2 separate regions of the Homo sapiens genome follow, and region 2 is linked to region 1. The links come from fine-mapping of genetic effects on gene expression. Tissue or cell type: whole blood. Region 1 holds a variant in brackets; the other region holds the start of a gene. All regions are shown on one strand. Distances are from middle to middle.

The links. PIP is the estimated chance that this variant, and not a neighbour inherited with it, causes the effect. A credible set is the group of variants that fine-mapping cannot tell apart.
Region 2: it holds the start of LINC00222, and the variant in region 1 is the best candidate, but not a certain one, in a credible set for the expression of LINC00222 in whole blood (TOPMed, PIP 0.59).

Annotation. Positions count from the first base shown.
Region 1 is chr6:108,696,708-108,701,099 of GRCh38, forward strand. No RefSeq gene overlaps it. Among named protein-coding and RNA genes, the nearest start is that of LINC00222, 53 kb to the right of the region's middle. RefSeq lists enhancers at 1,868-3,067, 2,295-3,101. The variant T/C (reference allele first, on the strand shown) is at 1,696.
Region 2 is chr6:108,749,081-108,753,472 of GRCh38, forward strand. It overlaps LINC00222 (long intergenic non-protein coding RNA 222), which reads left to right and starts at 2,574. Exons shown (of 5, transcript NR_033376.1): 1 at 2,574-2,769.

The DNA.
Region 1 (4,392 bases):
GTACTTATTCAAAGTCAACAAGCCCCTTTGGCTGGGGAGACCCCCTGACTCTTCCCATTCTCAACCCAGTGTTTTCTGGTTTTAAAGATGTAAAACTTCTGGCCGGGCGCGGTGGCTCATGCCTGTAATCCCAGCGCTTTGGGAGGCCGAGGTGGGTGGATCACCTGAGGTCAGGAGTTTGAGACCAGCCTGGCCAACATGGTGAAACCCCGTCTCTACTAAAAATACAAAAATCAGTCGGGCATGGTGGCAGGCACCTGTCATCCCAGCTACTCTGGAGGCTGAGGCAGGAGAATCACTTGAACCTAGGAGGTGGAGGTTGCAGTGAGCTGAGATCACACCACTGCACTCCAGCCTGGAAGACAGAGTGAGACTCCATCTCAAAAAAAAAAAAGGAAAAGAAAAAGATGTAAAACTTCTGCAGATGGACGATGCAAGGGTAGTGGTCAGCTCTTTAATCTGCACATTTTAGAATCCAGTTTTGCTCAAAGTAAGTAATAAGGTGGGCGAAAAACAGAACAGAGCTGAGTTTAAACCACACATCTGCTTGCCAGCTACACAGCCTCCATGCTCTCATTTATAGGATAGGCGAAGAAATTCCTACCTTCTAGTGTTGTTGCAAACATGAGAGGCTGCAGAAGAGTTCATAATGCAAGTGGGTAAAGCATAAGAGGCACTCTATAAATGGCAGCAATTATTATTAATTTGGTTTATTAAGAGAAACCATAGAATGTACACACCATTAACCATCTGTGGTAGGTGCTCTCTGCCTCTCAGTACTGCTCAGGATTTCTGAGGCCTAATTTTCTCCTGGCAGCACTAAGGGAAACCAAGGAGTTAACAAGGAGGCCTGGAGGCTGGCATGGCTGGGACTGTTAGTTCCTAATGAGGGGCCGGCCCGAGGAGGAGGCCTAGCAGCTGTGAGGAGGGGCGCTGAGGGTGTCTCCCATGGAGGAGACTTGGGCTGGAAACTTTGTTTTTCTTATTTCTGAACTCGGTTTTACACTCCTGAGGGGAGTTCCTAGTGTCTGGACTTGGTCTTTGAGCCCTGGCGCTGGTGGTTCCCTGAGGAAATGCCTCGCGGCTTCTTATGGGGCAATGTTGTTATTGATGTTGGGCCAAGGTGGTTAGAAAATGGGATCCTCCAAATGGGGGCCTTGTGGTTTGGCCACACGGAGATATCTCCACAAGCACAGCCGGGGTGGGGACAGCTGCCCACAGGGTAGGGCTTGAGGGTAACGTGGTGCTTCTCCTCGGCCGCCCCATCCTCTCCTGTCCTTGGCATTATTCTTACATGTCGCCTGTATTCTGGCTTCAGACTCTGCTGAGAGAAACGCGCTGTGTTAGGGCCAGCTGGGCCCTGAGCAGACTCCTGAGAGCCAAAAAGCAGGGAGACCAGGGTGCCAGGGGCACTCTGGAGAGTGAGAGGTGCTCAGAGTGACAGCACCCATGGGGGGTAGAGATGCCAGGCTGAGAAGAGGGAGAGGGAGAGGTAGCTCTACCTGGAGCAGGCCCCAGTAACCTCCACCCCCTCTAGAGGCAGAGGCTTCCGTGACCCCCAGGGTCAGCCCTGTCCCCCTCAGCCCTCGGTGGTCTCCCCTCCAGCACCCCAGGTGGTTGGCTATTTCCACATTGTGCCTACCAGACAGCTGTGGCAGGTGCTTTAAATATGTCTGTGGAGTGGTTGAAGAAATC[T/C]GAAGAAAAGAGGGAAGTCTGATGGTATCTCCAAGGTGACTTGGAGGGGCTCTGGGAAAGGATCTGCCCACTCTCCAGCTTCGCCATGATGGGTAGGCTCTCACAGGAGTGTGGCGGGTAACCGCCCTCACTCCTGGCCTTTGAGTTTCATTTCCGGTGAGTTTCTCCTTCCTTTTTATTCCAACTCTTCCTGGAAGCAGTGAGTGCTGGTTTAGTTTTAGGTACACATAACATTTGTCTTCATAGCCCCCACAGATGCAAGAGGCCTCATCCCTGTTCTGTGTCCCCTCTGGGTAGGCTCATGTGTGCAGAAGGCAGCCTGGGAAAGCCCGTTCACGGAGCTCACTTTGCTTGTTCTTTATCGTGGCTTCATGCCTCCCATTTGATGCTGCAGGTAAGAGGGCTCATGACCATATAAAGCAAATTGGGTGCCGGCTGTTACAAAGGGGAGGCTGCAAAGAAACAAAAGCATTTCAGCCAAGTAAATGCCCAGAATGTGCTGGGGAGTGGGGAAGGGAGGGGATAACATAAAGCCCCTGTCCCAAGGATGCAGCTTATGCCCCCTGGTCTAATGTGGGAGGGGGACGGTAATGATAATATAGTGTGAGAAGAGCTAGGACACGGTGAGTGACTGACAAGTGACCCAACGGGCAAAGCCAATGGCCCCCTCCACGTTCCACCCCCTGGGCATGAGCACCCTCTCCCATCTTGCCCCTTGATTTGTTGTGTCCTTGCCTGTTGCCTTGGGCAGGCTGACTTCTCTCCTTCCACACAGGGAGGTGGGCAGGAGGATGCCAGGAGCCCGTGTGACATCCAGCTGGGCCAGTGAGCCATTCGGTGGGTTCGCAGCAGTTTTGATGATCACCTGTCCATTTGTCAATGCTTTTCCTCACCCTCATTGCCTCAGAGGCTGTTAGTGTATGGAACTGTGATGCATATTCTATTATCTTCCCAGGGAATTACCTCAACGTTGGCCAGAGCTTAGCATTCTTAGCCACACGGGGCTCTGGAGGTATTTTTGGCGCAACTCGGAACTCCTGAGTGTCCATGCACTCTAGACTCGGGCTAGGATGCGAAGTAGGGATAAAGCAGATGTGGCGGGTGTGGCATGTCCCATGGACCCAGGCTTGGCCTTGCGTCCCCTTCTCCCTGAAGCCCGTTCCTCCCACTTGCTTCCTGGCTCCTTGGCCTCCCGCTGTCGTCACCCTCTGAATCCTTTCTTCTCCTCCCCACCGAGCAGGCAGAGGGAGGCAACTCTCATCACAGCTCAGGCCAGAGAGAGGAGTCCTAGGCCCTTGCTATTTTCAGAGCTAAAATTAAAGCCCATGGTTTGCTTCCTCAGCACTTAATTAGACTCCAGCGCCTCACAGGGCAGCCTCCTTCCCGCCCACCAGTGAAGGCCTGACCGGTGGGTTTGGAAGCTGACGCCATGTTCCTGGCAGGAGGGCTGGGGCCTGGGGTATTTTTACATATGAGAGGCTGTGGAGAGCAAAATGCTTGGCACTGAGCCAGTTAGACTAAATCAGTTGGGAGAGGGAGGGAGCAGGAAAGCTGTTATATCGTCCTTCCTTCTTTGAACTGCACTATAAATCTGCTAGACAGGAAATGGGATTGGGAGGGTAGAGGAGGGGGCTGTACAGTGAGGCTGGACTGGGGCCTGGGATACCACCACCCTCGCAGCCTGGCTCAGGTGAGGCCCTGCCCTGAAGGTGGGGTGAAGGGGGCCTCACTTGGGGCTGGGGGTGAGGCACACTGGTGGGTGTTCAGAGTTGTCTGGGTCAGCTAGGGTATGGGCTGACTGTATCTGCCCTCGTGTTATTTCTGGGCCCCTTCAGATCCTCCAACTAAAACCACCATCGGTGGAACAGCTTTTAGGACTGGAAGAGACTTCAGAGACCCTGTAATTAGGGTTTTGAGGACAAGAGAGGGAAAATAAATTACCCAAAGCCACATACCTTATGAGAACTGGAAGTGGGGATGGGACTTTTGACCTAGGACACGATGGCTGTGCACTGGCTCTCTCCCCTTCTTATTGCTGTCTCTTGGCTTTCTTGGGGGCACAAACTTTTCATTCCAGAGTAAAGGTAAGATATAAAATGCAGATGTATGTAAGTAAAATGACATACAGTCAATTCACACTAAGAGCTAAATAATTGATATTTAGCACTGTTACTGAGTAGAGATTTTGATGAGCAGAAGGCCCCTGTGCTCCGTGGAGGTGTCCTTCTGACCGTAAGGGTGGTGAGGCATCATTGACTTCATAATCAACCTAAGGCCATCTGGCCTCAGGGTTTCTGGAGGGGGCAGGTGGGGGAAGTTGAGACCTGGGATGTACCTGAAACAGAACCTGCTCCCTCCCAGGGAAGAGTGAAAACAGGACACCTGACTAATGACATCTCATATTTATCAATTTACAGCATTTCTCCAGAAAGGTCTAGATACCAGCCTTAGGGGAACCTCATTATTGTTGGATTAAACTTATGCCTACCCATGCATCTATAAGCCAAGGAACCTCTCCTGTTTTTTATCTCTCCTTTTCCCTCCTATAACACTCCTGAGGCTGCCTCTCAAATGTAGGAACCAATAGGTGAGAACCATGTAAGATCTTCGTATATACTCCTGAACCCTGAATTAAGTTAAGGAATAGCCATAGCCTGTATTTATTTTGCTTTTTTTTTTTTTTCAAGCACTATACTA
Region 2 (4,392 bases), 52 kb after region 1:
GAAGAACTACATACTTGCAGATGTGTTATGAAATATACCCCATTAGTCACTTTGTATTTGAAAGGCAGAAAAACAGGCACCTAGCAACAGCATGCCGTCACTCAGGATTAGAGAAAAGCCACTTTACATCCAGTAACTATTACCCCCTCATTTGGGAGCTGTCAAGCTAGTACATTTAATTACACAAAAGATCCTTGGCTGTTGATTGTCCATATTCACGGTGAATGACAGTAATGACATCACCAAAGGATGCCTTTTGGTGGTGGAGGAGACAGGAGACTGGGCTTAGTAGGAGCTCTCCAGATAGGCTCGTCAGTCAGTCCTATGCAGAGAGACCCAAGGCTCCACTTGAGAACTGTGCTTTCTCTTCTGAAAAGCCATTCATCCTTCCTTCTCTTCCCTCTGAGTGGATTACTGGGTGGGTGGGGAAGGGGGTTGCCCTCCTAGAACACAGAAGTAAGGGTCCAGAACTTAACACTGTTCAGGAGCAAACTTTCCCCCACCAGCCATGGGGGAAAGCATCAAATGCTGAGCTCTTATTAGACCCAATCAGATGGAATTTTCAGCAGGTTCTTTCTTCACACTTTTTAGGAGGGTAAAAAGTAACAGGAAGCAAAGGAGATGACGAGAAAGAAGAAAACATCCAAACCTAACATTGGTCTGGGGAGAGATTCCTTGTGGAACATCAGCAGGCGCTTGCATCTGGGCCAGACAATGTAGGGGCCCCCAAGGCCACTCTGCAGACATCACTGAGCCCCTGTAGCAAAGACCAGGGTCCAGAATGAAGATGCACAGCTCAGTCCTCAAGCAGCTCCCTTCAGGCAGGGGAGCTCAGCACCTGAGGAATGTCCCAGAAGCAAGATGTTCCCTCTGTGTCCTAGAGACTTGGGTGCAGACAGAAACTCACATATGATCAGGTCATATGATCAGGTCTTGCCTTCCAGTTTGAGCCTAGGTTGGATAAGTAGAGGAGTGTCAAGAAGAGCAGTGGGGATTTGCATGCATGGGGAAGGCCAGGGCTGGAGGCGAGATGGACTTTCCCTGTCTCCTAAAAAACTGAAAAATAAACATAAGAGAAAGGAAGGAGGAAGAGAGAAAGGGAAAAAGAGAGGGACCAAAAAAAATAGCATCCATTTGAAATAGATGGTTTTAATGATTGTATTGCAATGTCATGCACGACATTGTGAATGTAATTAATACCACTAAAAATAGTTAAAATGGCAAGTTGTATGTTATGTAACCATTTTAAATGATGTAATATGCCAAAAATCACAGTGTGCATTTTAAATGAAGGAATTATATGGTATCTGAATTTATATCTCAATAGAGCTGTTTTTAGAAGGTGGTATCCACAAGCAAGCATGTGTGTGTGCACGTGTGTTGGAGTACATTCACATGCACATGTGTGTGTGGCAAGAGTGTCAGTTTCCTAGCTAATCTACTTTGGGTGGAAACTGTCAGTGATGACTAGGCAAAGGTGGAGAAGAGAAATGTAACCTACCTGTCCATTGTTCACTGGTGCCCTCGAGAAAGAGAGAAAGAAGTATGACAAATGCTAAAATAATATGATATTATAAGCTTCACATATTTTTATAAGGGGGAGTATTCTCCACCACAAATTCCACGCCTGGTTTCCCGTTCTCAATACACTTTGTTTACAGAGTCAGTCTCATGAAAGCTGTGGCATGAATTATCAAGCTGAAGCTCCTATTTTCCCCTTGAAATATGCGCTTGTGCTTAGGAATGCAGCATCTCTCTTCCAATTATACCTTGGCGCCAGAGTCCCTTTTCCTGGAAGTACACCTCCAATGTCAAGAGGGTGTGGTGCAGTGGAGATGATGCTGTGTCTGGGTCAAAGACCTGCCTCCCTGCCTAGGAGACCTTGAGCAGTCATTGCCTGGACGTCTTTGACCATAAAATGCAGATGATGATGATGCCTCCCTTGCCTTCTCCCTGGAGTAGCGTGCGAAGCAAAATCCAAACAGGATAACATGTGAAAGCGTTCAGTAAACTGTGAATCACTGCCTTAGTGGAAACTATTCTGGATGCACGTAATAGAAACCCAATCAAGTAAGCAAAAAGGAAGACACTGAGTTGAAAGGAGACTGGGATACCTCTCGGAAACTATGGCAGGAGGTGAGGCTGGATCCAGAACCCGGGTCTGGAGAGCGGGGAATGCAGGCAGCTCACTCCCGTGGCTTCTCGCTGCTTTTCCATCTGTTTTCATCTCTGTCTCTCTCTCTCCAGAGTGGCTTCCATTGTTCTGGCTTGCAGGGCCAAGCAGGGATACCCCATGGCTCCTGTGACTACATAGCCTTCATTCAAGCCATGAGCCCAGACGTCTACGCCAGGTCCTAATTCAGTTGGTTCAACTGGGCTGGGTGTGGACACGTGTTGTCCAGTGAGTCATGAATATGGATAGGGGTCACACAGAATAAACTTGACCATTCTTTGTCCATCCTGTGGGTGTGAGCTGGGCAGGTACCAGGAGAAGTGCCTTCTACAAACATTTGGCAACATCTAGTGGTGTGATTACAATAGTCAGCGAAAGAGGAAGATTCAATTTTGAGGACCTCCTTTCCTAGTGTCCCCATCTTTGCTGCCTTCTGTGAGTTTGATCATGTGGACTCCATGGAGGTTGGCCACTGCTGGGCAATGCAGCCAAACAAAGTGAGCAAAAGTAGGCTGGAGGGCTCCGTGGGTGACTGGGGCTAGGCTGCCTCTGGTGCCCCAAGAACCCTGAAGCCACCTTGCAGCTCTTCTGAAATGGTGAGTGGACTGCTGTTCTTCTTGTGCCAAGGTGTCCATGTTGCCTTTCTCACAAAATGTATTGCAAATAAGAGTGGGTACAAGTCATAGAAACCCATTCCAAGCTAGCTTACATAAAAAGGAGACCATTCTGGGGCTGCTTTTCCAGATCCCTCAGTCCTTTCTCTCCTGCTGCCCTTTGAGCCATTCCACTGTTTCCAGCTCTCTGGAGACAGGCATGGTGAGGTCTGCATTGATCTCCCCCCATGAAATGAAGGAGAATATGCTAAACTAGTGGCTGCTGATTTTTCCCCCTTCTTTTTCTGTCATTGCCTGTGGTCTGCAATTACCCATTCCCCTCTTGGCCTTCAGAGCTGTGCGAGGGTGAGCAGGTGTTGAGAGCAACTTTGTTCTTTTTGAGTCAATTTCATTACGTGGAGAGGATCCAACTCTCTCCGTGTAGCTGGCAGCTCCCAAGGCCAGACCACTGGGCAGGGCTCCCAAGAGCAGTGCTAGCCTCTTTGGTGTCACAAAGGGCCAGGCCAGGCCTGTTCATCTCTTTCCCCAAGAGCAAGCTGCTTTTTGAGCAGATGTACAAACAATTGGATGCCTCTGATAGACTGCAGTTCTGTAAGGTTGCAATCCTACCAGCCCTGCAGAGAAGTAAAAAGAAAAGCTCCAAACTGAGGCCTCTCAATTCTGCCGTCTTTCAGACTTTCCTGCGTTCTCACAGGTGGGCCAGCAACTAACCATGGGCCAGTAGGCCTGTCCCCTGCACTGTAGAAGATGCTGGTTATGGGATGTATAGGTGGAAGAGGGAAGGGAGCCATGCAGAACACCCAGGCCTTTTCCTTGCCCAGAACTTAACTGGGCAAACACATAACAGATCCCTGCAGCATTTAACCCTTAAGGATTAGCCCTTAAGAAGCTACAAAGGTAAACAAGTACATGATTACATTCAGGCTAGTTGCTGAATAATAATAGCATCTGTTCCTGGCACCATACTAATCAGTTTACATTTGTCAATTCACACAGCAAATAAGTGACAGAGCCAGGATCTGAACCCAGACAGTCACTACACAAACTTCCTCCCACATTATCAGCCTCTCACAATGCAAACAAAACACTGACACAGAATGCGATCGTCTTTGCTCTTGTGTACTTGTGGTAATTTGCGTGATTGAAAGATACCATTAGGAAGAAGAAATGTTTTAAATATCTAACCCCTGGAAAAGCAAGATTTAGAGACTAAAAATTTCATGACCCATCCGAAGCTCAGCAGTCAAGTTTGCAATTCTGCCAACTTCCCGCAAGAGTAAAACTGGCTGTTCTCACTGCTGTTAATAGAGGAGGACCATGACCTTGATGTACAGGTGGTGGGAGGGTGGGGCATTATTTAAGCAATGGGATCTGATGGGGGGTGCTGGAAAATGAACAAAAGTGTGAATTATTCCACAGCTGCTCACCCTGACGTTTATTGTGACTTTAAAATCTGAGAACATATGGTAACGGCTGGAAGCATGAAATAGCAGTTGGAAACGTGTAGACTTAAGGAAAAACCAGCCACCCTTATACCTCCCCACTTGGCTTCTCTGTAGAATGCTGTTGTCTTGCTAGCCTTTTTCGCTCCCAAATCTGAAGAAA